Linked DNA regions of Homo sapiens: region 1 is linked to region 2. Evidence: fine-mapped expression QTL. A gene starts in region 2. The other region holds a variant in brackets. All regions are shown on one strand. Distances are from middle to middle.

Region 1 (2,900 bases), 130 kb after region 2:
CAGTTCCATCTGTGTTGTTGCAAATGACAGGATTTCCTTCTTATTGGTGGCTGAATAATATTCCCTTTGTTTATATACCACATTTTCTTCATCCATTCATCCATTGATGTGCGCTTGGGTTGACTCCATATTTTGGCTATTGTGAATGGTGCTGCAATTACCATGGGAGTGCAGATATCTCTTCAATATGCTGATCTCCTTCCTTTTGGATATATACCGAGTAGTGGGATTCATCTGAACCATTTTTTTTTTAGACTAGTCAAGTTCAGTAGTGAGAAGGGAGCAAAAAGTAGAACAAGGGGCCAGGCGTGGTGGCTCATGCCTGTAATCCCAGCACTTTGGGAGGCTGAGGTGGGTGGATCACTTGAGGTCAGGAGTTTGAGACCAGCCTGGCCAACATAGTGAAACCCCGTTCCACTAAAAATACAAAAATTAGCTGGGCGTGGTGGTGGGAGCCTCTAATCCCAGCTACTCGGGAGGCTGAGGCATGAGAATTGCCTGAACCCAGGAGGCAGAGGTTGCAGTGAACCGAGATCGCGGCACTGCACTCCAGCCTGGGTGACAGAGTGAGACTCCATCTCAAAAAAAAAAAAAAAAGTTAGCCGGGCGTGGTGGCGCACACCTGTAACCCCAGCTACTCAGGAGGCTGAGGCAGGAGAACCGCTTGAATCCAGGAGGCGGAGATTGCAGCAAACTGAGATCACGGCACTGCACTCCAGCCTGGGCAACAGAGTGAGACTCCGTCTCAAAAAACAACAACGAACAACAAAAAATACAATTGCAAACCACCACCATTTGACACTGCCTATATCCACCCCCAACCCTGCTCCAGTTGTTTCTTTGCAATTGCCACTTTCCAGCATACTATATAATTTACTTTTTTTTTTTTTTTTGAGATGGAGTTTTGTTCTTGTCGCCCAGGCTGGAGTGCAATGGCGTGGTCTCAGCTCATTGCAACCTCCGCCTCCCTAGTTCAAACGATTCTCCTGCCTCATTCTCCCAAGTAGCTAGGATTACAGGGGCCCCCCACCACGCCCGGCTAATTTTTGTATTTTCAGTAAAGACAGGGTTTCACCATGTTGGCCAGGCTGGTCGCAAACTCCTGACCTCAGGTGATCCACCCACTTCGGCCT[C/T]CCAAAGTGCCGGGATTACAGGCGTGAGCCACCGCACCTGGCCTAATTTACTTCTTTATGTAGTCTATTGTGTATCTATCTTTTCCAGGGAACCTCAGCTCCACAAGGGCAGGGCTCTCTTGTCACTTTGGTTTATGGCCATATCACAGAGCCCATCCCAGTGCCTGGCACATATTAAGGAATGCATTAGGATTCCAAAACCAGCCAGGAGCGGTGGCTCATGCCTGTAATCCCAGCACTTTGGGAGGCCGAGGCGAGTGGATCACGAGGATAGGAGTTCAAGACCAGTCCGGCCAAGATGGTGAAACCCCGTCTCTACTAAAAATACAAAAAATTAGTTGGGCGTGGTTGTGGACACCTGTAATCCTATCTATTCGGGAGGCTGAGGCAGAGAATTGCTTGAACCCGGGAGGCAGAGGTTGCAGTGAGCCGAGATCGCGCCACTGCACTCTGGCCTGGGCGACAGAGCAAGACGCCATCTCAAAAAAAAAAAAAAAAAAAAAAAAAGATTACAAAGCCCAGAATGCCACAAGACCACAGGTGGTGCAGTGAACAGGGCATTGCCTTGAGAGTCTATCATCCCTGGGCAAGTCATTAAACATAGGGGTGGGGGTGGGAGCCTCCTGTCTGTAACGTGGAGGTGTCACGTGCCAAGGGCTCAGGCACACGCGCGCGCACGCACAAACACACCCATTAGTAAGGACACGACCCCTGGCATTCTAATGCGATTTATACTTTTCCATGAAGGAATTCATTTCCCCCTCTCACTAACCCCAGAGACAGGTAGAGCCGACAGGTGGAAGAACTGAGGCCCGAGAGAGACAGCGGGGGACCCTCCCCGCGCCACGGCACAGCAGCTGTCCGACCCCCTCCTCACGCCCGGGGGGCGCGACGGCTGCCGAGGGTCGCGGGCAGGGGGCGCGGCGCCGGGGACTACATTTCCCAGGAGCAGTTGCCGCGGTTCCGCCGTTCCTGGGGTTTCAAGAGCCTCGCGTTAAAGGGGGCGGGGGAGGTTGCGCAGTCCGCCAGCTGGAAGATGGCTCTGCGCCCGGTGGGGACCCGAGAGCCGCCTGCCTGGGTGCCCAGGCGGGGTCCGGCTGCAGTGAAGAAGCCCCCCAGCTCTGCAGTGTCCCTGAGGGGAGGCGAGGCGAGGCGAGGCGAGGCGAGGCCAAGCCAATTGGAGGCCGTCTTTCCTCGTCTTGCCCGCCTCGGCTTCGGCCTCTGCGCCCAAGCCCCAGGGAACCCCCTCCCTTCCCCTCCAACTCCCCGGAACAGGGGAAGGGGCGGTGAACCTCGCCGCCTGGCGGGAGAAGGGGTGTCCACTAGCTGGAAGCCCCTGCAACCCGAGGCAACCCCTTTCCCCAATTCTGGCTTCAGTTCCGGGAATTTACAGGTCGCTGGGATGGGCGGGGAGAAGGGACAGGAGAGATACAAAATGAAATGAACGCCCAGGTGTCAGGGAGCTGAGCCTTACAGTACCCCGCCCCCAATCCATCCTTCTAAGTCCCGGGCCTCCGCGGTAAAATAGGGGTGATGGGGATAGTGATCAAAGGCAGGAGGCGCAAAGGATCCAGAAACCGGTGGGGAGCACTGTGCAAACTGTAAAGCGCTGTGCAAATAAAATTATTGATCGTCGTGTCATTGGATTCATCCAGTCTTTAAGACATGCACGGATCTGGGGCGGGGGATGGGGTGACATGGTTCTGGGCTCTCAGGGTGGAACATCTCGGATACGGGGAGGGGGGGCTATTTGGGTGCGTATTAACC
Region 2 (2,900 bases):
CCTCCTGGGTTCAAGCGATTCTCCTGCCTCAGCCTCAGGAGTAGCAGGGATTACAGGCATATGCCACCATGCCCAGCTAATTTTGTATTTTTAGTAGAGATGGGGTTTCTCCGTGTTGGTCAGGCTAGTCTCGAACTCCTAACCTTAGGTGATCCGCCCGCCTCGGCTTCCTAAAGAGCTGGGATTACCGGCGTGAGCCACTGCGCCCAGCCCATCATCTACTTCTTAACGTGGTTGTGGTCAGATTCCACCCCAACTATGCGCTCCTTGAGAGTGGGGACTGGGAGGGGTTCAGCTTTGAATCCTCAGAGCCCAGGGCCAGGTACATAGTAGGTGCTCAGTAAAATACCTGCTGAACACTCAGGGAAGGGAGGGCTGTGCCGGGCCTCAGAGGAGATGTTAAGAGAGCAGACAGGGTGGCCAGGCATGGTGGCTCACACCTGTAATCCCATTACTTTGGGAGGCTGAGGCGGGTGGATCAACTGAGGTCAGGAGTTTGAGACCAGCCTGGCCAACGTGGTGAAACCCCGTCTCTACTAAAAGTACATAAATTAGCCGGGTGTGGTGGTGGGGGCCTGTAGTCCCAGCTACTCGGGAGGCTGAGGCAGGAGAATCAGTTGAACCTGGGAGGCAGAGGTTGCAGTGAGCTGAGATCACGCCACTGCACTCCAGCCTGGGCGACAGAGCGAGACTCCATCTCAAAAATAAATATATAAATAAATAAAAATAAAAAAGAGAAAGGACAGGGTGCACAGAGCCAGGACCCCACCCCCTCCTGGTCTGGACCACCCTGGGCCATCTCCTAAGCTTGACACTCTCAGGCCTGAGGCTGTCAGGCCAGGGCGCTTTGACTATCCCCTGCCTGCCCCTGAACGCGGCCAAGCCCGAGGCCTTAGCCAAGCCCTGCAGCCTCAGGCTTGGCGCCCGGCCCAGCCTTTCTTTAGCCTTCCCGAGGAGCCAGCGAGAGAGCGCTGCAGCAGCCGCAGTCCTTGCTTCCGGGGAAGGCCCGGGTGGGGCCAGGGCCTGTGGTTAAGTCAGTGGCCCTCTGCAGACGCGCACGCAGCAGGAGCCACGCCCTGGTCCCTGCCCGGGAGTGGCCTGGTCTCCCCCAGCTCTGATTCCCTGAAGGACCCTGCACCTCCTCAGCCATCTTCTCTGGGCACCCCCTGAGCCCAGCCTGCTGGCCACAGGCCCCTTCCCGCCAACTTGTGGGCCTAGCTCATCATCAAACTATTTTCCACTGGCTTCCCCCAATCTCTGCCACAGCACAATTTTGGTGGGGAGGTGGAGAGGGATGAAGGAGAATAGGAGGTGGAGCTTGGACTCTGGCCGGGGGCGGCGGGGTGAGGGGGGGCAGCAGCTCGCCACTCTGATTGGTCACCTCTGCTCCAAAACTGGCTTCAAAATTCCACGGACTCCGCCCCCAGTGGCCCCCAGCCCTATCCTGACTTGCAATTGGCTGAACTTTCAGGGGGCGGGGCTCACCCGGTCCGGTCCAGTTAAAAGGGTGGGAGCGTCCGGGGGCCCATCTCTCTCGGGTGGAGTCTTCTGACAGCTGGTGCGCCTGCCCGGGAACATCCTCCTGGACTCAATCATGGCTTGTGTGAGTGTGGGGACCCCCCCCCAAGGTCCAGGGGATAGGGCAGGAACTGATGGCCAGAGGAGAGCTGGGCAGATCGGGAGCAGATTCTAGCCCCAGCTGTGTGGCCTGGAACCAGTGCCTTCTCTTTTCTGGACCTCAGTGGCCACATCTGTAAAATGGGGGTGGGCGCCATGGTCCCTCAAGGCCTTCTCTGCATTGATAATTGTCTGGATTCCTCCAGGGTCTGAAAGCACAGTTATTTCTGCCCAGGGTTGACATTCTGCAGCTCTCTGAGAAGTGAGCGTGGGAAGGGTGTGGCCAACTGGGGGACACCCAGGCCACTATCCCTTTCCCCCTCCTCCACCCCAAAGAGCCTCCTGTCCCCTCCCCCCTGCAGCTGTCCCGGTCACCAGGCCAGGGCAGAGTTACCCTCTGCTCCAGAGAACGCTGAAAAGTTGCCAGGACCCGAGACAAGCTGCCCAGGATGGGCCCTTCTAGGTCGGGGGTGGAGGGTGGTTGTGTCCAGGCTGGTGGCGGGGGGGGCGGGGGAAATTCCCTTCCACCACCCCCAAGCTGGGAGGTTGGGGTGGCAGGGAGGTGAGAATCTTCCTCGGGCCCCAGGGAAAGGGTTCAAGTTTCTGGCAGAAGAAACCACTCAAACCAGTTAACTCTTGCCCACCCACTCGGGGTGCCAGGGAACAGCAGTGCCCAGCAGTTTGCTCAATCTTGTTAACCCTGAGCCAGCCCAGCCACAGCCCGACTGCAGGGCTATTCTCCCTAATGCAGAGAGGCCGTGTTTTTCAGGGTCTCCTCTCTAGCCCCTGGGCCTCTTTGCAGAGAGGGGCTTGAAGGAGAATAGTGGGGTCGCCCGCCCCTAGCCACTTCCTCTCCAGCAGAGGGGCCGGCCCCTCCATTCAGTGTGACGGTGGGCCAAGTGTCGGCCCCTCCCCAGCCTGATCCTCTCCATCTGCGATGGGACAGAGCACCCCATCTCCCAAGTCACTCTTGAGTCCAAAATTCCCAAGCCAATCTGCAAAATCTTCTAGAGCCTGTCTTCTAGAACCTTCACGTTACAGACTGAAGCCAACCCCGGTGGGAATAGGGACTTTCCCAGGACCACATAGACAATCGGAGGCTGGAAATTACAGCTCAATCCTTTCCCCAGGCTTCCCCTTGGCTTGGTCAGAGGATGCCGGGCGGGAACAACCCCACTCCCACCCCCAGCCACCCCCGGACACTTCGAGCAGTGGAGGCCTTGTCCTCTAACCCGGCTGGGCCGGGGCTTGTCTGTGCAGGGTCTGGTCGCCAGCAACCTGAA

What was found. PIP is the estimated chance that this variant, and not a neighbour inherited with it, causes the effect.
Region 1: its variant is fine-mapped to the expression of LGALS1 in whole blood (INTERVAL, PIP 0.94).

The regions. Positions count from the first base shown.
Region 1 is chr22:37,800,342-37,803,241 of GRCh38, forward strand. No RefSeq gene overlaps it. Among named protein-coding and RNA genes, the nearest start is that of H1-0, 3.4 kb to the right of the region's middle. RefSeq lists a cis regulatory region at 1,733-2,900 and a silencer at 2,032-2,081. The variant C/T (reference allele first, on the strand shown) is at 1,134.
Region 2 is chr22:37,674,109-37,677,008 of GRCh38, forward strand. It overlaps LGALS1 (galectin 1), which reads left to right and starts at 1,528. Exons shown (of 4, transcript NM_002305.4): 1 at 1,528-1,603; 2 at 2,878-2,900. The coding sequence starts at 1,595. RefSeq lists a silencer at 1,331-1,470.